Homo sapiens: one gene and its partners. The protein of the gene in region 2 purifies or fractionates together with the protein of the main gene of each other region. This does not show direct contact. Each region holds a gene or a part of one and is shown on either strand. Other genes may lie near its edges.

Evidence for each region. Proteins that work in one complex are often made in the same cells at the same time.
Region 1: the proteins of PLEKHO2 (region 2) and TACC3 purify together in Homo sapiens (affinity purification with mass spectrometry; 4 studies listed by BioGRID and IntAct, with this or other methods). This does not show direct contact.
Region 3: the proteins of PLEKHO2 (region 2) and RNF20 purify together in Homo sapiens (affinity purification with mass spectrometry; 3 studies listed by BioGRID and IntAct, with this or other methods). This does not show direct contact.

The regions. Positions count from the first base shown.
Region 1 is NC_000004.12:1,738,482-1,745,520, reverse strand, and holds the end of TACC3 (transforming acidic coiled-coil-containing protein 3), read right to left. Parts: exon of another isoform or gene 5,823-7,039; coding exon of another isoform or gene 5,820-5,822; coding exon 5,743-5,819; exon of another isoform or gene 5,563-5,742; coding exon 5,519-5,562; exon of another isoform or gene 5,040-5,518; coding exon of another isoform or gene 4,960-5,039; exon of another isoform or gene 4,696-4,959; coding exon 4,535-4,695; intron 2,127-4,534; exon of another isoform or gene 1,984-2,126; intron 1,004-1,983; coding exon 897-1,003; intron 810-896; coding exon 689-809; intron 607-688; coding exon of another isoform or gene 574-606; coding exon 508-573; 3' UTR 350-507; downstream 1-349. UniProt on the Homo sapiens protein: Plays a role in the microtubule-dependent coupling of the nucleus and the centrosome. Involved in the processes that regulate centrosome-mediated interkinetic nuclear migration (INM) of neural progenitors.
Region 2 is NC_000015.10:64,844,896-64,851,934, forward strand, and holds part of PLEKHO2 (pleckstrin homology domain-containing family O member 2), read left to right. Parts: intron 1-3,697; coding exon 3,698-3,847; intron 3,848-7,039.
Region 3 is NC_000009.12:101,557,814-101,563,844, forward strand, and holds the end of RNF20 (E3 ubiquitin-protein ligase BRE1A), read left to right. Parts: intron 1-2,987; coding exon 2,988-3,113; intron 3,114-3,276; coding exon 3,277-3,417; intron 3,418-4,096; coding exon 4,097-4,198; intron 4,199-4,432; coding exon 4,433-4,609; 3' UTR 4,610-5,531; downstream 5,532-6,031. UniProt on the Homo sapiens protein: Component of the RNF20/40 E3 ubiquitin-protein ligase complex that mediates monoubiquitination of 'Lys-120' of histone H2B (H2BK120ub1).

The sequences.
Region 1 (7,039 bases), on a different chromosome or scaffold from region 2:
CTTACAGTGAGCCGAGTTCACGCCACTGCACTCCAGCGTGGGTGAGAGACTGTCTCAAAAAAAACAAAAAACAAAAAAACAAACAAAAAAACGAGTCCATTTGGACTTTGATGTGTGTACCTGAGGCCAGGACCATGTAGCCAACCCGAGGTGGCCGGGGCAGACTGGGCAGGCCTGAGCCTCCTCTATCCACTGGCTGTCCCTGCCCCTCGGCAGGGTGGCCTGAGCCTGGGGTAGGCAGGGACCAAGTGGCCAGCTCTGAGGGGAAGGGAGGGCACCTGCGGGTCGGCTCAGCCTCAGGCTAGAGCTGGGAAACCTTTGCTTCATCAAGACCAGAGCGGCTTCAGTGTTTAAATTGAAAGGAAACTTTTATTGAGTCATGTTTTCAAAGCAATCTAGTTTTTAAAAAAGTTGAAGACAAGACAGAAAAAAGAACATGACACCTAAGAGAATCAGACAGGACAGACAGACGGGAGCAGGGGGGCGGGGACAGCGGCTCCGTGGAGGTCAGATCTTCTCCATCTTGGAGATGAGGTCGTCGCAGATCCTGGTCAGCTCCTCGTTCTCTTTAGTCTGGAGGAGGAAGATGAGTTGCGGGGCTTCTCCCTGCTTGGAGGGAGCAGCAGGCCCAAGGGCCTTCTAGAAGGTGCTGCCAGACGGCCCCTTGAGCTGGGCTTCCCGCACCCACCTTCTGCTCCACTGTCTTCTCCAGCGACTGGATGCGCATCTGCTCCTTCCTCAGGCTGGCCTGGAGGGCCAACGCTTCCGCCTGGGCCTTGCTCCGGACCTGGGCGATCTCCTCGTTTGCCCTGGAGGGGTAGGGGCGGGGCAGAGGCTGAGCTGGGGCCCAGGTGCTCAGATTCTCCCTCCAGGGTGGGGCCTCGCCCAGCACTCACAGCTGCAGCTTCTCCTCCGCGTGGGCCTTCAGGGCTTGGTACCTCTGGCCCTCCTGGGTGATCCTTGCCAGGTAATCCTCCACGCACTTCTTCAGTGACTCTTCGTTCTAGGAAGGGGCAGGCATTAGCTGTGGGTACCACGCCGTCTGCTGGAGAGCACCCAGGCTTGGTGTCTGGGGACCTGCAGATCCTCGAGGCTGTCTGGGGCATCAGCCGTGAGCCAGTAGCTCCCGTTTTCCTTTTGGAAAAAGCCCCTTCACACAAGTTCCCAGCTCACCCCCTCTGGAGGTTCAGGACAGCCCTGGCTCTCCACCCTGAGATGCCGGGCCTGAACCTGGTGCCCTCACGGCTGGGCCCCCTCCTGCCACACCTGCAGCCTCTGCTGGCACCAAGTGCTGCTGGAAAGTGGGATGCACCTGGGACCACTGACAGCCCAGCCCGTCTCCCTCTGGAGCTGAGCCCTGTGCTTTGGGGACAGGCAGGGGAGGCCAGCAGGAGCCACATGGTTACCCAGACACGCCTGCTCCTCACAGGCTGCTGCCCCCTCTGGGGGCACCTTCCGCTCAGTGACTGAGAAGCCCTAACTGAGGGGTTCCTGGGTCCCCGAGTGGCCTCTGCTTGGGAAGGCTCAGCCTACCTGCCTTCTTCCTGCAGTGCCCCCAGCGGCCTCACAGCCCAGCCATCCTCACTCCTCTGTCGCAGCCCTGTATCCCAGAAGCACCCTCAGCACTGCAGCCTCTCCCTGAGCCCCTACCCAGCATGCAGCCCCTGATGTCCTGCGGAGGTCACGCCTCCCTTAAACCCACAGCACTGTGTTTCTCTGCTGTGGAAAATTCCCAACAGCGTCTGTCCGGGAGGCGGCATCCGGAAGCTCTCACGTGTGCACAGGTCAAGCCTCCCGCCACAGCGGCGTCTCTCCCTCTGGCTCTGGGGGCTGCCGTCCACACACTGGTTCCCAACTCAGCCTCTGCTTCCCTCATCTGACCTGTACCCTTTGAATTGTTAATGTTGTTAACTGTGTACCTGTTAGAAATTTCCATTTGGTTCTTTTCTAGTTTCTGTTTTTTTTTTTTAGACGGAGACTCACTCTGTCACTCAGGCTGGAGTGAAGTGGCATGATCTCGGCTCACTGCAACCTCCGCCTCCCGGATTCAAGCGATTCTCCTGCCTCAGCCTCACAAGTAGCTGGGACTACAGGTGCGTGCCACCATGCCCGGCTAATTTTTGTATCTTTAGAAGAGACAGGGTTTCACCATGTTGGTCAGGCTGGTCTCAAACTCCTGATCTCGTGATCCACCCGCCTCGGCCTCCCAAAGTGCTGGGATTACAGGCGTGAGCCACTGTGCCCAGGCTTTTTTTTTTTTTTTTTTGAGACGGAGTCTCGCTCTATCGCCAGGCCATAGTGTGATGGCGCGATCTTGGCTCATTGCAACCTCCACCTCCTGATTGATTCTCCTGCCTCAGCCTCCCAAGTAGCTGGGACTACAGGTGCCTGCCACCATGCCCAGCTAATTTTTGTATTTTTAGTACAGAAAGGGTTTCACCATGTTGGCCAGAATGGTCTTGAACTCCTGACCTCATGATCCTCCCGCCTTGGCCTCCCAAAGTGCTGGGATTACAGGCATAAGCCGGCCTAGTTTTTCTGTATTTTTTGTTTTCTGAGAGAGTCTCGCTCTGTCGCCCAGGCTGGAGTGCAATGGTGCCATATCGGCTCACTGCAACCTCTGTCTCCCAGGTTCAAATGATTTTCTGTCTCAGTTTCCTGAGTAGCTGGGACTATAGGTGCACACCACCATGCCTAACTAATTTTTGTATTTTTTTTTTTTGAGATGGAGTCTCACTCTGTCGCCCAGGCTGGAGTGCAGTGGCACGATCTTGGCTCACTGCAACCTCTACTTCCTGGGTTCAAGTGATTCTCCTACCTCAGCCTCCTGAGTAGCTGGGACTACAGGCAAATGCCACCCTGCCCAGCTAATTTTTGTATTTTTAGGAGACGGAGTTTCATCATGTAACCCAGGCTGGTCTCGAACTCCTGACCTCAAGTGATCCACCCGTCTCGGTCTCCCGAAGGGGATTCTTTTCTAGTTTCAAGGTCTCTATTGAAGCAATACTCTTCTGAATACAGAAGACAATTACTTTAAAGTCTGCACTGGGTCGTCCAAGATGGGATTAGATGTGCAAAGGAGCCTCCATGAGGAAGTAGGGAGGTGGCCAGTGGGAGCTGAGGCACAGGCCTGCCCCGGGGAGAGGCGAGGCCAAGGCAGCTGCTCACACCACAGCCCAACCTGAGGGAAGGTCAGCAAAGCCGCTGTGTCCTCAAGCCAGCAGCACCGTGTGAAGAGTCCTGCCTCTCCAAGCGTCTGTGCTGGGCCAGACTGCTGTACTCTGCTGCCGGTGGGCACTCTGCTGCCACAGGGCCCTTCCCATCTGCTCCCTGCAGACCTGAGGCACCACCTGCCGGTGCCAACTCCAGCGTCTGGGGCTCCTGTGGGTCTATCAACAGTTTTTGTTTTTGTTTTTTAATTTTAGAGATGGGGGTCTTGGTCTATTGCCCAGGCTGGGGGTGCAGTGATACAATCATGGCTCACTGCAGCTTCGACCTCCCGGGCTCAAATGATCCTCCCACCTCAGCCTCCCTAGTAGCTGGGACCACAGGTGTACATCACCATGCCTCACTCTAATAACGGGTCTGATTTTCACTCATGTTTCCTGTTCCTTTCACACTTGGTTATTCTGTGCCAGACACTAATTTAAAACTGCAGCAGCAATTTAAAGCATAAGATACCTTCTTCCCTAGAGTATTCAGGCTTGCTTCTGTTAGGCAGCTGGGCCCCAGCCACTGACACCCACCTGACTTCAGGACTCAGATGAGGTGTGGCTCAGCAGGCCCTGCAAGGGCCGCTTTTCCAGTTTAGTCTGACTCCCAGGGGACCCATCTGGTGTCCCCAACCCCCTTGCACCAACAGTGACAGCCCCTCTTCCAGCTGCACCTGCAGGTCCAGCTCCTCCACAGGAGGCGTTGAGCACCTCCGCTCCAACATTGCTGCTGTGGGCAGAACCCTCTGGCGGCCTCGCAGGCACCTTCCAGGCCTGCTCTGGGCAGATGGATGGCCCAGACATCCCTCCTTCCAGCAAGCATGTGGGCCTTGCCCAGCACAGAAGGTGGGGGGCGCTCAGAGTCCCGTGGCCAGGAGGACACCAGGGTGGCCTTGCACAGCCGTGACCACCTTTCAGTGGGCCTCCCGCCTTGGATACTGCATGCCCTGGGTCCCCAACCCTTGGGACCCAAGCGCTCGGACAGCCCAGACACCTTTCCGAGGTGCCCCAGGCCCCGGTGCACCAGCGCTGTCTCAAATCTCACAGATGCCTGATCATAGCCGAGTCGTCTGTCACACAACAGCGGACGGCTCAGATGGCCTCCCTGCTCACTCTGCCTCCTGCCGCCCTCAGCTGCCTCGCAAACCAGCTATGCTGTGACTCCTGCACCCTGTCTCGTTCACAGGTCATCCCATGCCCCCGTGGCAAGGGGAGGCTTGGCCAAGGACCAAGGTGCAAAGACAGCAGCTTGTAGCCCCGCTGGCTTGGACCATGAGTCCATCAGCCTCCGAGGTGAGGACACCAGGGTGGCGGAGACATACCTTGCGGTAGCCCTCGATCACCTCTTTCTGTTTCTCAAAACGCTTGAAGAGGTCGGAGAAGGACTTCTCCATGGAGTTCAGATCTGTGGTAAGTTGGTCTTTTTCTTTTAGAACTTTCTGGATTTCAGCTTTGGAAAGTTCCTTCTGCTTCTGAACTTCCTCTTGAGAAAAGAAAAGCAAACGTTCAGGATGAGGAGGCAACCGAAACGATGGGTGCCAGAGACAGCCCAAGGAATGAGGCAAGGGACTCGAGCGCCAGGAGGAGAGGTGGGCAGTGGGTGTGAGCCTCGGAGGGTGATGGGTCCCTCCACCCAGGATCTTCTAGGCCGGATGCAAAGCCCAGGAAACAGCTGTTTCCTCCACATCAGATCCGCAGGGAACTGGAGCCTGGGCCAGAGGTCCCTGAAGAGGCGGCGCCCAACACCCTAGAGCCTAGGGTGAGGCCTGGGAGCCGGTATGGCGAGCTCCAGGATGTGCGTCGTGCTTCGTGGTGGTCCTGGAGGGACTGCAAGGGCCAGGCGGTCACCTGCCGCCGGCTGACACTCAGCCTAAGACAGATCCCCACAGTAGCACCTCCAGGAGCCCAAGCTTTTGGGAGGCCAGATGAGGCCTGGTGTTCCCGTCCTGCCAGACACCTACAGAGGCTGCTGCTAGACATAGCCGCACGGCGAGGGCAGGGTGGAGTGGGGTAGGCCACGGCGGGACAGACTCTGCTCCCACCACAGCCCCACTGCTAGCTCAGCATCTGCACAACTGTGGGGCCTGCCAAGCCCTGGCTCCGTGGGAGCCACCAGCCTCACTACCACCAGCTTCCCCGCAACTCGCCTCAGTGCTTCCACGGCCGGGCCCATGTTGAAGGGACTCGTGTGTTAGGAAAAGGGGCCTCAGGAGGGTGGGGTCCTAGGCAGGGTGCAGGGCAGGGCCAGGGTGGGGCATAGGCAGCCCCTCGTGGAGGCACGTGGCCTCGGTGGCCCGGGCACTCACCCATGGCCTGGTACACAACCTCTTCGAACCTGTCCATGATCTTCCTGTGGGAGGAGAACAGACACACAGCCATTGCCTCGGGTGCCCAGCGGTCCCAGGCCAGGTGGGGATGGGGACGGGGACAGGGATGGCGAGGGGGATGGGGACAAGGATGGCGAGGGGGATGGGGACAAGGATGGCGAGGGGGATGGGGACGGGGAGGACAGGAGACGGGGCCTCCTTACCCCAGTTCCAGGTTCTTCCCGTGGAGCTCCTCACACCTGCTCCTCAGCTCCCGGTTCTCCTCCTGTGTCGCCTTTACCTGCTCAGGCCACACCCAAGTCAGCAGGCAGGCGGGCCAGACTGACCCTCCCAGGACCTCCCCACAGGATGGGGCCAGCCCGCACCCGAGGTCCCTGGAGCAATGTCCCAGAGGCACAGTTCCATGTGGGGCTTCCAGTGGGACCCTGGGAACCCTGTCGAGGCCAAGGCCACCTGCTCCACGTGCACCCGACTGCCAGGGGGCAGGAGGCATGAGGCTGCTGGCTGTGCTCCTGGGTGGAACCAGCAGGCACCCAACAGGTGTGTGTCCCTGCAGCTGCCCCCGCAGCCCAGTGGCAGATACTAGGGGTCCTAAGTGTTAAATATAGTGAACTCCAAGTTTGTCTTCAAAGAATCAGTAAGTCAGTATGTTCAGATCTCTTTTTTTTTTTTTGAGACAAGAGTCTCACTCTGTCGCCCAGGCTGGAGTGCAGTCACGTGATCTCTGCTTGCTGCAAGCTCCGCCTCCCGGGTTCAAGCCATTGTCTTGCTTCGGCCTCCCGAGTAGGTGGGACTACAGGTGCCCACCACCACGCCCGGCTAATTTTTGTATTTTTTAGTAGAGACAGGGTTTCACCGTGTTAGCCAGGATGGTCTCCATCTCTTGACCTCGTGATCCGCCCACCTCGGCCTCCCAAAGTACTGGGATTACAGGCGTGACCCACTGCACCCGGCCAGATCTCTTCTTTGATTCTCCATTTAAAATTCCTGGTTCTCTTCGCCCCTTGCTTCTAGTTTCAGTAAACAATTTTCCCGCCAGTCCTAATCAGTAGTTCACATCTGTTCCCTGGTCACCTGCTCCATCCTGACTCATCCCGGTCACCTGCTCTGACCTAAGTCACCTTGAGTTACCTGTTCCTAACCGTCCTTCCCGTCAAACTACTCACCCCACCACTCTGACTCTTACCCTGCCCTCTTTAAAATAGCCAATTGGAATTGGCTTAGACTGTGTGGTCCAACCTTAGCCAACAGGGGAACAACACAGCAGTAGGGCTACCTGTGTCAGGAATAAGAACCCCTTCCCCTCCCTTGTTCAGGTGTGCTCTTGCCATTGCTCCATCTGCGAGGGGCACCCTTTCTGCAGAAAGTAAAAACTGCCTTGCTGAGAAAATTAATGTTCGAGCACTATTTCTTTGTGGCACCAGAGAACAAGCATTGTGCATTTCTAACATAAGTTACATGCAGGGGCCACCTGCCCCCGGAGCCCAGGCCTGCAGAGGA
Region 2 (7,039 bases):
AGCAGGAGATTACCCGCTCCCCACCAGACAGGGGACTTATCTTATACAGCGTCTCTGTTACCCACCTCAGACTGAAGGTTGCCCTGGGGCAGAGCCTGTGCTTCCTCTCTCTCAATGCCCCGGCACAGGACTCTGACACGGTGGATTCTTAGTAGAGTTGGGTCAGAACATCACTGGGTTTTGTCAAAGAGCAAAGGTTGTCATAAGCTTCCTGGGATGTGAGGTGCCAACCAAGTTTCTTCTAGTCTCTGTCTCTCGTAACCTGTGTTGTGGTTCCATCTGTCCCCTTCTGTGTACAGAGTTGAGGTGACCTGGCTTCTTTTTTTTTTTTTTTTTTTAATGAGTGATCCAAGGGAGGCAGGCTGGTGCCTAGGGGTGCCTCAGGAGCTGCTCACAGTGGGCAGGAAAGGGCCTGGGTGAGGAGGGATGGGAGGGGAGAGGGCAAAACAGGAAGAACAGCGGTCAGCTGCTCAGTGAGGAGAGGAGGCCGAGAAACTGGGCTGAGCAGGACAAAACCTCCCCTGTGAACCCTGCCAAGGGGAGGGGCCCCTTATTAAAACTTACTGGGGCATAGCCAGGCCCCCCTGGAGGGAGGGGGTCTGAGGGGCAGGGAAGGGGGCTGGGTGGAGGCAACTAGGACTCTGGCCTCCAGCCAGTCCTCCCCTGGGTGGCTGTTTCTGTGGCTGGGCTGTGGTTCACACCATCTGTAGCCCTTCAGTTGTCCCCTTCTCCATACCAAAGTGCTGTTTCGCCTAGTCCTGCCCTGGTCCCATTCATTCTTCAAGGACCTGGACTTGTTTCTGTAGGTAATCCAGTCACAGTATTCTCTAGGCTACATCAGCCCAGAAGTGACAGTGATCTAGGCACAAGTTCCAGCTGTGGCCCTAGGGAGCTTCCAGAGGGTAGAAAGTTTTCAGGAGAGGTCATGAGTGGAGAGAGTTTAGAAAGGGGTGTGAGATCCCTTGGGGTGGTGGGTGGGTCCCCTGAAAGCAAGAGGCGAGCTTGGAGCTCAGAGGTGGGTGGCTGGGCAACAGCTTCACACTCCACAGACCTCACTGCCTTGTTTAAGAGAAACCAAGAGTCTGCCCATCAGGTGGAAGGCCTGGCAGGGGCTGGTGGTGCTGTCCTTGCTGTTGCCGTTGCAGTAGGAGGGTTGTCAGTGTGAAATGTGGGGGTGGGGTTTCCCATTTCCCTGTTCTTCCCTTCTAGCCCTGGGCCTATGACAGCCTGCAGGGCTCGCTGAAGTAGTGTTAGGGCCCTGGGGGTGTCAGTGGTGATGTGGGGAATGGGAGTTGAGTGCATGATGGAATGGGAGAGCCTTTCCCTTCTTGTCAAAGGGTGCTGAAATCCCTCTTCTCCTGGACAGGGTGGCTCATAATCGGCCAGCCTTCTACTTCCTTGTTCCTATATCTGGGAAGACCTTTTTTTTTTTTCGGAGACAGGGCCTCATCCTGTTAACCATACAAGAGTCCAGTGGTGCAATCTCGGCTCACCACAACCTCCGCCTTCCTGGCTCAAGGGATTCTCCTGCCTCAGCCTCCTGAGTAGCTGGGATTACAGGCGTGCGCCACCACCGCCCGGCTATTTTTTGTATTTTTAGTAGAGTTGGGGTTTCCCCATGTTGGCCAGGCCGATCTCAAACTCCTGACCTCAAATGATCTGCCCATCTCGGCCCAAAGTGCTGGGATTACAGGCATGACCCACCATGCCTGTAGAAGAAGACCCTGGGAAGATCATTTGGACCACCCCACTTCCCCATTTCTCTTGCCATCTACAAGTTAGGGAGAGACCCCAAGGTGGGACCCCACATTCCTGGAGCTCCTGGAGATCTGAGGCCAGCAGCTATAGACCAGAAAGGGCTTGTCCTGACTTGGGAACTGGGCCCAGGGAGAGGGTCCCTGAGAGCCAGAGAGGATGGCAGTGACAATAGTAACAATAATGACAGCTGCCGTTTACTAGGTTTAGGGCATCCTGGGAACTGCTCTATATGCTTTGTCTTTACTCAGCAACAAATGTTTATTGAACACTTACTATGTGCCAGTCACTGTCTAGGAACTGAGGGTACAGGAGTGAACAAAACAAAAATCCTGCCCTCGTGGAGTTGGATTCCTTACAACTTCTGCTGTTAGTAGCTGCATTTCACAGATGAAGAAACTGAGGCTCAGAGAGGTTAAGTGGTTTGCTTCAGTCTGCATGACTGCAGCTTCTAAGCCCAGATTCCCCACCACTAGAATGCGCAGTTCAAAAGGGGGTGGGGGCCCACAGTGAGAACCAGGCTGGGGTTCCCCTGCCATGACAGAGACCAGGGAAGCCAGGTCTTCCCAGCTCCTGACAGTGCACCACGCTTACATCTGTCTGGGCTTGTTCTTCCAAAGGCAGCTGTGGCCACAGGATATCCCTGGGGAGAGGCACACCTCTTTTAACTGGGGCCCCTTTTTTGAATTTTATGTAAATTATAACGTAGTCAAAATTAGTCCATGCTAATTTCCTTCTAGCAGCCTCTAGATTCTGACACATTCTTGATCCCCTCTCCTTCACCCCCCACTTCACACTCACGACTCTGGGTACCTATCAGTGAAGCAAAGTGGTTAGCAAAGGGTGTGTATTTTTATTTTCATTTCACGCGTACCTCTTGAGCACCCATTATGTGTAAAAGAACAGGGCTGGGTGCTGGGGACCCAGAAGTGGATCTGACCCCAACCTTATTTGGTAGGCATGTATCTGGCACCCAGCCACCCAAGCAGGCAATCAATGAGGCACAAGATGTCAGTAGCTGGCCCCAAGGCTCCAGGGTGTCTACCCAAGTCCAAGAGAAGGGCTTGAATTTAACTCCTGTGCCAGCCTGTGGTCAAAGACAGAGTCCTTGGAACCCTCACCAGATGTGGTGGCCACCCTAAGGTCCTTGCCTGGAGTGGGGAGGAGGGGAGAGGAGCCTCCTGCTTTGGGTGGGAAGCGGAAGGGGCTGCAGAGTGGGTTCTCTAGAAGCATAGCGGTAGAGAGGCAGATTGCCACTCAGCCTGCCTGTCCTTCCAGTCTTTGTTCTGGGTGGCCTTCCTGGGCCACCCCAACCTGAACTGGGTCCCCCACTGTCCTCTCGCTGCCCTTTGTGTGTTTCCTGTATAGCATTTCACACAGGTTGATGGGTATGCCTGGGTATTTATTTGTTCAGCTCCTATTTTCCCGCACTGTGAGCTCTGAGGACAGAGACTGCCTTACTTTTATTCTCCTGTGATGTTGTAAGCACTCAGTACATTTGTTGACTGATTGAATGAACACATGGAAGCAGAATGGTGGAGTGGGAAAAACGTGGGGTCAGAGAGACCTGCTTTGAATTCTGGCTCTGTCCTCTAGCAGTGGTTTGCCACTCTGTCGAGTCATCCTCCATTCTGAGCTTTAGTTTGCTATGACATGTGGATAATGAGGCTACCATCTTGGAGGGGAGTTGTAAGAGTGAAATGACACTATGTGTATCAAATGTTATACAGTGGCTCAGAGTAAAGTGGCTGCTGCTATTATTGTTGTTATTAGCTCTGATCCTGGGTTAGGAATATCTGCCTTGGGGGTTGTGGGGAAGCTCACATATTATGATGTCATTAGGTACTTAGCCTAGGGACACATCCCTTGTGTGACCTATGAACCTGTGACCTGTGACCCCATGGTAGCAACCCTCATGGTATGAACTGGTGCTGTGTTACAGGGTGTGAAGGAAGCCGGTGAGAAGCCTCGGGGAGCACAGATGGTGGACAAGGCTGGCTGGATCAAGAAGAGCAGTGGGGGCCTCCTGGGTTTCTGGAAAGACCGATATCTGCTCCTCTGCCAGGCCCAGCTGCTGGTCTATGAGAATGAGGTGAGGACCTGCTTGGCCCTGAGATTGGGGGTTCTGGGACAGGGGCAAAGTGAGGGCATTCAAGTTAGTAGGAGGACCCTGGGTCTGGGGCCAGAAGACCTGCTCTACTTTTGCCATGCTGTGCAACCTTGAGCGAGTACCTAATCCTCTCTTGGGTCTCTGTATATGGGGATAATACCTCCGAGGACAAATCTAGGGTTTCTAGATGAGAGTTCTTTTCTTATTTTTTTAAACTTAATTCTTTTTTTTTTGGTGATGGAGTCTTGCTCTGTCACCAGGCTGGAGTGCAGTGGCGAGATCTCGGATCACTGCAACCTCCGCCGCCTGGTTCAAGCAAAGCAATTCCTCTGTCTTAGCCTCCTGAGTAGCTGGGACTATAGGCATGCATGCCACCATGCCCAGCTATTTTTTGTTTTTGAGAAAGAGTCTCGCTCTGTAGCCCAGGCTGGAGTGCAGTGGTGCGATCTCAGCTTACTGCAACCTCCATCTCCTGGGTCCTGGTTCAAGCAATTCTCCTGCCTCAGCCTCTGGAGTAGCTGGGATTACAGGCATGCACCACCATGCCCAACTAATTTTTTGTATTTTAGTAGAGACAGGGTTTCACCAAGTTGGCCAGGAGAGTCTCAATCTCTTGACCTCGTGATCCACCCACCTTGGCCTCCCAAAGTGCTGGGATTATAGGTGTGAGCCACCACGCCTGGCCCTCTTTTTTTTTTTTGAGATGGAGTTTCGCTCTTGTTGCCCAGGCTGGAGTGCAATGGCACGATCTCAGCTCACTGCAACTGCCGCCTCCCAGGTTCAAACAATTCTCCTGCCTCAGCCTCCCAAGTAGCTGGGATCACATGCGTCAGCTACCACACCCGGCTAATTTTGTATTTTTAGTAGAGACAGGGTTTCACCCTGTTGGCCAGGCTGGTCTCGAACTCCTGACCTCAGGTGATCCACCCACCTCCGCCTCCCAAAGTGCTGGGATTACAGGCGTGAGCCTGCGTGCCCAGCGGAGAGTTCTTTGAACTGTATGTGCATCTAGTGTGCAAGTCTTTTCCTGTCCCTGGGCAAGGTTCCATATGAGTGAATGTTATGGAAAACTGAAGCCTGCTCCATTCAGCAGTGGTAGTAGAAATAATAATTAGCAGGCCGGGTTGTAGTGGCTTACACCTATAATCTCAGCACTTTGGGAGGCCGAGGCAGGCGGATCACCTGAGGTCAGGAGTTCTAGACCAGCCTGACCAACGTGGAGAAACCCCATCTCTACTAAAAATACAAAATTAGCCGGGTGTAGTGGTGCATGTCCGTAATGCCAGCTACTCAGGAGGCTGAGGCAGGAGAATCACTTGAACCTGGGAGGTGGAGGTTGCAGTGAGCCGAGATCATGCCATTGCACTCCAGCCTGGACAACAAGAGTGAAACTCCATCTCAAAAAAACAAAAAAATAATAAGTAGCACTCGTACTTGTTTGGAGATATGCTCTTACATATCTCCCTATGACAAATTGCAATAGTCCCATGAGAGTGGTCTTCATGTTAGATTTTTACAGAAGAGGATACTGAGGCTCAGGGTGACAAGATGACTGTTCAGCATCTCCCAGTGAATGGAGGAGTTAGGTCTAGAAGCAAGTCCAGCGTGCTTTCTACCAAGAGACGCCAGCAAGTAAACTCCAAAACTTATTTTTGTTAGAAAATCTCTAAAATATGTTAAATATTCTCCGCTTTCTTCAACAGAAGATTCTGGCCTAAATAAAATCTTTCCCTGGTGGCTCAGTGTCATCACCTGTCAGACCCACCTGCAGAGTGGGTTCTCTAGATGCACAGGGGTAAAGAGGCAGATTGCCTCTCTGTTTTGAACTGGCAGGAGGCTGTACTTCTCATCTTTTCTTTCTCCTTTAACATCAAGCTGCTGGTTGCAACTTCTGCTGTCCTTGTGCCTCGAATAGCCCTCACTTCTTCCCACTTCAGATGCTTGTTCCCCTTCTGATTTCAGCAGGCTTGGGATTTGGACAACCAAGGATGCTAAGCTTGCGTGTTAACTAAGAGTCAATTAAGATGTAGGTGAAGACTTGAGGAAGAAAAGTGGTTTTTACTTGTAGATGCTATTTGTGTGCTGTGGTTGAGGCTATCGGAGGGCCCATCCACTGAAAACAGGGTAGCAATATATGCCTTTGACAAATGAAATACCTGGGGAAGAATTGGCCTGGGGGCAGAAGGGGGAGCCTGCCTCTTCCTCATCCACCTCTCCCAGCCTGCCTCAGGCTATCTTGGCAAATTCACAGTTGTCCCAGGACAAGAAAGATTAGGCAACCTGGATCCAAAGTGTTTAAAGGAGCTGCCTCGGAGAAACACCTTGTCTGACCTACCTGAGTTGCTGGCTCGTGGAGTTTGTTTGGGTGTCAGAGAAGCAGTGGGAAGAGGGCAAGGGAATGAGGGTGCGTAGACAGCACCCCCAGATGTTCTCTACTGCTGCTCCCACCAAAATAGGATGTGCCACAGTTGAGAATGAGGCAGCAGGGGGACCTTTTTTCCAATAAAGGGGGTTGTCACAGCTTCTTCCAGTGCCAGCTGCCATGAGATTTAAGTAACAGGCTTCAGCTGTCAGCCTGTCAGGTACTGTCAGACTTGTCCTAAACTGCCTCTCTGCATCTGGCCACAGCTGGGAAGCAGGAAGGATTTCACATCTCCCAAACATGAAAAATCTAAATCATGCTTTTTTCCCCTTGTTTGAAAAAGATTGCTATTAAAAATGTAAATGCAATTTCAGGAACTTAACACTTAGGGGTGGGGGAGCTTGGCCCTGGAGTAGGAATTGAGAAATGCTTATTAGCTCAATTCCTCTTTCTGATGTAAGGAACTAGGCGAATGCGAATGGCTCTTGGCTGTTTCTTTGCTGTCAGAGAGGCTGACATTCCAAAGATGCTTCCCTCACCCATTGCCTACTGGTTTATCCGTTTTTCTGAGCTGCAGAAGAGCTGGGATGATTCAGCGTCTTGGGGTGGGGTGGAGAGGAGACCCAGGACAGGCAGCTATTGGGAGCTTAATGGTAGAGGTGGATGGACTTTTTGTTCCCAGGCAGAGGAGGGTGTATTCGGGCCAGTGGCGGTCCAGTTAGTGGAGGCCTGTGGACACGGGGCAAGTAAGCTGCTCTCTCTCAAGCAAGGATTCTTCCCCGGGCAGTTTCCCTGCTCCAGATTCCCGGGGA
Region 3 (6,031 bases), on a different chromosome or scaffold from region 2:
ATGGAAACATGTCTGAAATAAAATCAAGTGACGTGTTTTGTTATCCTTTTTGCGTTAAAGTATATGTTTACTTGTGTTCCTGTGCTGTATATTTTAAAAATTTCTGGAAGGCTGCATGAGAAACTGTTAGAATTGTTACTTCTGGATATTGGGATGAGTTGTGGGTGAGGTTAGGAGGTATGTGTGATTTTACTTTTTTTTTTTTTTTTTTAAATTTCCATAGGTTTTGGGGAACATGTGGTGTTTGGTTACATGAATAAGTTCTTTAGTGGTGATACCAAGATTTTGGTGCACCCATAACCCAAGCAGTGTACATTGTACCCAGTGTGTAGTCTATTGTACCCAGTGTGTAGTCTGTTGTCCCTTGCCTCCCTCCGCCAAGTCACCAAAGTTTATTGTATCATTCTTATGCCTTTGCGTCCTCACAGCTTAGCTCCTACTTATGAGTGAGGACATACAATGTTTGGTTTTCCATTCCTGAGTTACTTCACTTAGAATATTGGTCTCCAATTCCAATTCCATCCGGATTGCTGTGAATGCCATTATTTTGTTCCTTTTTATGGCTGAGTAGTATTCCATGGCGTGACTTTTCCTCTGGGTAGATACCCGGAAGTGGGATTGCGGAATCAAGTGGTAGGTCTACTTTTAGTTCATTAAGGACTCTCCATACTGTTTTCCATAGTGATTGTACTAGTTTACATTCCCACCAACAGTGTAAAAGTGTTCCCTTTTCATCACATCCATGCCAACACCTATTATTTTTTGATTTTTTGATTATGGCCATTCCTGCAAAGTGAGGTGGTGTTGCATTGAGGTTTTGATTTACATTTCCCTGATAATTAATGATGTTGAACATTTTTCTTATGTTCGTTGGCCATTTGTATATATTCTTTTGAGAATTGTATATTCATGTCCTTAGCCCACTTTTTGGTGGGATTGTTTGTTTTGTTCTTGCTGATTTGTTTGAGTTCCTTGTAGATTCTGGATATTAGTCCTTTGTTGGATGTATAGATTTTTTTCTCCCACTCTATGGGTTGTCTGTTTACCCTGATGATTATTTCTTTTGCTGTGCAGAAGCTTTTTCGTTTAATTAAGTTTCATCTATTTATCATTTCTTTTGTTGCATTTGCTTTTGGGTTCTTGGTCATGAAGTCTTTGCCTAAGCCATTGTCTAGAAGGATTTTTCCAATATTGCTTTCTAGAATTTTTATGGTTTCAGGTCTTAGATTTAAGTCTTTGATCCATCTTGAGTTGATTTTTGTATAGGGTGAGAGATGAGGATCTAGTTCCATTCTTCTACATGTGGCTTGCCAATTATCCTACCACCATTTGTTGAATAGGGTGTCCCTTCCCACTTTATGTTTTTGTTTGGTTTGTCAAAGATCAGTTGACTACGTATTTGGCTTTATTTCTGGGTTCTCTATTCTGTTACATTGGTTTACATGCCTATTTTTATACCAGTACCATGCTGTTTTTGTGACTATGGCTTTATAGTATAGGTTGAAGTCAGGTAATGTGATGCCTCCAGATTTGTTCATTTTGCTTAGTCTTGCTTTGGCTATGTATGCTCTTTTTTGGTTCCATATGCGTTTTAGGATTGTTTGTTCTAGTTCCGTGAAGAATGATGTTGGTATTTTGATGGGAATTGCATTTCATTTGTAGATTGCTTTTGGCAGTATGGTCATTTTCACAATATTGATTCTACCCATCCACGAGCATGGGATGTGTTTCCATTTGTTTGTGTCATCTGTGATTTCTTTCAGCAGTGTTTTGTAATTTTTCTTGTCGAGGTCTTTCACGTTCTTGGTTAAGTATATTCCTAAGTATTTTATTTTATTTTTTTTGCAGCTGTTGTCAAAGGGTTTGAGTTCTTGATATGATTCTCAGTTTGGTTGCTGTTGGTGTATAGCAGAGCTCTGATTTGTGTACATTAATTTTGTATAGTGAAGCTTTGCTGAATTCATTTACCAGTTCTAGCACCTTTCTGGATGAGTCTTTAGGGTTTTCTAGGTATATGATAATGTAATCAGCAAACAGTGACAGTTTGACTTCCTCATTACCAATTTGGATGCCTTTTATTTCTTTCTCTTGTCTGATTGCTCTGGCTAGGACTTCCAGTGCCATGTTGAATGGAAGTGGTGAGAGTGGCATCTGTGTCTTGTTCCAGTTCTCAGGGGGAATGCTTTCAACTTTTCCTTGTTCAGTATAATGTTGGCTGTGGGATTGTCATAGATGGCTTTTATTACCTTAAGGTATGTCCCTTCTATGCTGATTTTGCTAGAGTTTTAATCATAAAAGGATGCTGGATTTTGTCAAATGCTTTTTCTGCATCTATTGAGATGATCATGTGATTTTTTAAAAATTCTGTTTATATGGTGTATCAGATTTATTGACTTGTGGATGTCAAACCATCCCTGTATCCCTGGTGTGAGACCCACTTGATCATGGTGGACTATCTTTTTGATATGCTTTTTGAAGGCAGTGTGAGAAACTGTTAGAATGGTTACCTCTACATATTGGGATGAGTTGTGGGTGAGGTTAGGAGGTGGGTGTTTGTGATTTTACTTTTTACACTTTAATATTGTTTGATTCTACTTTGTGCATTAATTTCAAAAAAGACTCTTTTAGAATGTCTAGCCATTCTGAAGGAAATACTCTTGGACTTTTGTTTGAGTTCTAATTTATATGTTATAGTATGAATTGCCAGGTTTTAAGCATTAGCATGCATTCTCTATTTTTGGCAATTTGGAAAAGAATCTTTTCAGTCATTTTTCAGACTCTTACTGAATCTTCCACAATATTTTATATTAAAAGTAAAGCTTTCAGTTATCATAGTCTTGATGTATTTTGAAGGGTTCATGGGCAAAATCAGTAATAGTTTGAGATTTCTAACATACTGTATTTTGTGGGCTTATAGATTAACAGAATAGTTTTTTTTCTTTTTTTAATCTTTTCATTTGTGTTAAAATCTGATTTTCTGTTCAAAGGTTGATGCCCAGCTACAGGTAGTAAGGAAACTGGAAGAGAAGGAGCATCTGTTACAGAGCAACATTGGCACAGGGGAGAAAGAGCTGGGTCTTAGGACCCAAGCCTTAGAGATGAATAAACGCAAGGTATGATTGATTAATCTAATGATGGTTAGTCTCAGTGGAACAAATAAGTATAACACTGTTGAGATTGTAAGTTCGCTTTATTCCTTCAACTTGGGCTAACATTTTGCCTCACTGGCAATAATAGGTGATACAATGGTGTCACTTATTTGTACATCCTACATAGGCAATGGAGGCAGCCCAGCTTGCAGATGACCTCAAAGCACAACTGGAGTTGGCTCAGAAGAAGCTACATGATTTTCAGGATGAGATCGTGGAGAACAGTGTTACCAAAGAAAAGGACATGTTCAATTTCAAACGAGCCCAGGTAAAAGCAGTTGTCTTTTCTTGTCACCTTTTAGGTGTTTTCTGAGGTCGGAAGTGACCCATATCATGAAAGAATCATTAGTCCAATGTATGTCATTTCCTACTAGACTTGAGGAAGTTTGTTGAGGGAAGAGAGTAAGTCTGTTTTCTTCACTGCCATATCCTCAGACTCTTTTATGGTGCCTTGCACCTAGTAGGCACAAAATAAATATTTGTTAAATTAATGAATTAGTAAATTGTTAAAGAAGTAACAGCATAGCAGCAGTAGAGGATTTTCAAGTTCTTGTATAATGTCTCTATTTTTGTCATGCTAGCTGTTTCTCATGATGTCTTTCTGTCTTTATCCGTAAGTCTCTGAATTATTTTAAACCGTTCTACCTTCAGCTTAAAACTAATTACTATAAAACAAAATAGACTGTCCTCTAAACTCTTAGATGTGTTTTCACAGGACTGAATTGGTAATAGATGCAATTCTAATTTGGGGATATAATTATGGTTGCCTCTTCTGAAACAAAAGAAAATATCCTGCCATTTGCAGTTCTCTACATTTCTACAAGATAATTGACCATAAAAGGATAGAAAGTCCCCTCTTTTCACAACAGAAAACTCAAGTCTATTATTTTTCTCAAAAATGATAGATTTGGGTAAGTGTGTCTAATGGGTATGCTATCCTGCCACAGGAGGACATCTCTAGACTTCGCAGGAAGCTGGAGACCACAAAGAAACCAGACAATGTACCCAAGTGTGATGAGATTCTGATGGAAGAGATTAAGGATTACAAGGTTAGAAAAAATGCCTTAGTGATTAGTTTTTTGTCAAAGCTTTAAGTGGCCTAATAGACTGGGAGAATAATTTGCATGATAGTAACCAGAGAATGGTTTATTTTGGAGGTTGGGGGGAAATGATGCTCTTTTTTTAGTGCCTTGTGGGTTTTCTTCTTGGTTGTGTAGTATATGAGAGCCATTTGGATCATAAACTTTCATGGTTGTTCAAACTCTGACATCTTTTCTTTTTAGGCACGCTTGACCTGTCCGTGCTGTAACATGCGTAAAAAGGATGCTGTTCTTACTAAGTGTTTTCATGTCTTCTGCTTTGAGTGTGTGAAGACACGCTATGACACCCGCCAGCGCAAATGTCCCAAGTGTAATGCTGCTTTTGGTGCCAATGATTTTCATCGCATCTACATTGGTTGATCTAAGTCAAGAGAAGAAGAGGAGCTGGCTAGTCAGGAACTTATTCATTAACCACCAAACCTCTACCTCTTCTCTCCTTGACTGTCACCTGTAGGACAGTTTATCAGTCAACTACCTTTCCTCCAGACTTTACTTCCAGGCTCTCCTCTTCAGTAGCTGGATGACTTTAGCAGAAAGGACTGGTAAATACAAGCCTTGGGTTTCAGAATGAATTAGAAACAAATAACTCTTACTGTCTTCCCTCCCAGCTTTGTTTATTTTGTGCTTTTAGACTTTTCAGTGTTTTCTTTTTCCAGCCCACTGTATAAACTTGGATTGTCCATTCCTCCTGAAGAAATCAAGTTGGTATTTTTGATGTGGAAAAGGGAACAAAAGTGGAAACATGGCTACTTTTGGGGAGTGATATTTTAAAAAATAAGTTGTCTATGGGCACAAAGTTTTCTTCATTTGTGTAGCAAACTTCTTGTGAATGTGGATTACAAAATGGTATAATTGTGCTACTCTCCCCTGGGTGGTTTGCAGCCCTAATGAAATTATGTCTAGGATGATTCAGTCTATTTCCCATTTACTAGCAGAGTAACTTGTTAAGATCAGCTGGCTTTCTTGTTAAAGTTATTTAAGTTTTGAATGCTCTACTACTTCAAGTCTTTAAATTTCTTGAGACTAGAATAATTTTAAATAATATGACCCTTTGTCTTCTAATGAAATAAAGATTGAAGAGGTTGAGTCAGGACTGAGCTGGTGAAGAAATCTTGTGGGTATTCTGGAAATTTGATACGGAGAGAACTTGGTGAGCTATGAATTACTCTCAGTCTCCTTTTTACAGGGTTGTTGTGATCCCTCTTTTCCAGAAAATTCTGTGGAATGTTTCTGTAGGACTTTGTTCTCCACAAGCTTGAATTAAAGCAGGATTCAGTTTGCATTTGTGTTTATGGTTTTTCTTTGAAACTTTTGTCTTTATTATTACAAGTTGATTTTATATCTGCTGTTATAGAATTAAATTTTCTTGCATGGAAATAATCAGCTTAGGTTAAGAGGTTGGCCTTGTTTAGAGTATTTAGATCTTTGCTTAATTGAAGCACTTTTCTCCCAATTCTTTTATTGAGTCTATTCTATGGAGAAATTATACCTAAAAGATTAATTTATTTGACTACTCAGTTATCTTTCATAGTTCATTAGGTGGGGTAAGAGACTATAATTTGTTTTTTGGGGGAGCATATTGCTGCCTCTAGCTTTAGGGTGAGAGTTCTTGCATTATGTGGTGGGTTTTTTTTTTTTTTTTTTGAGATGGAGTTTTGCTCTTGTCGCCCAGGCTGGAGTGCAGTGGCACAATCTTGGCTTACTGCCACCTCCGCCTCCTGGGTCCAAGCAATTCTCCTGCCTCAGCCTCCCGAATAGCTGGGATTACAGGTGCTCACCACC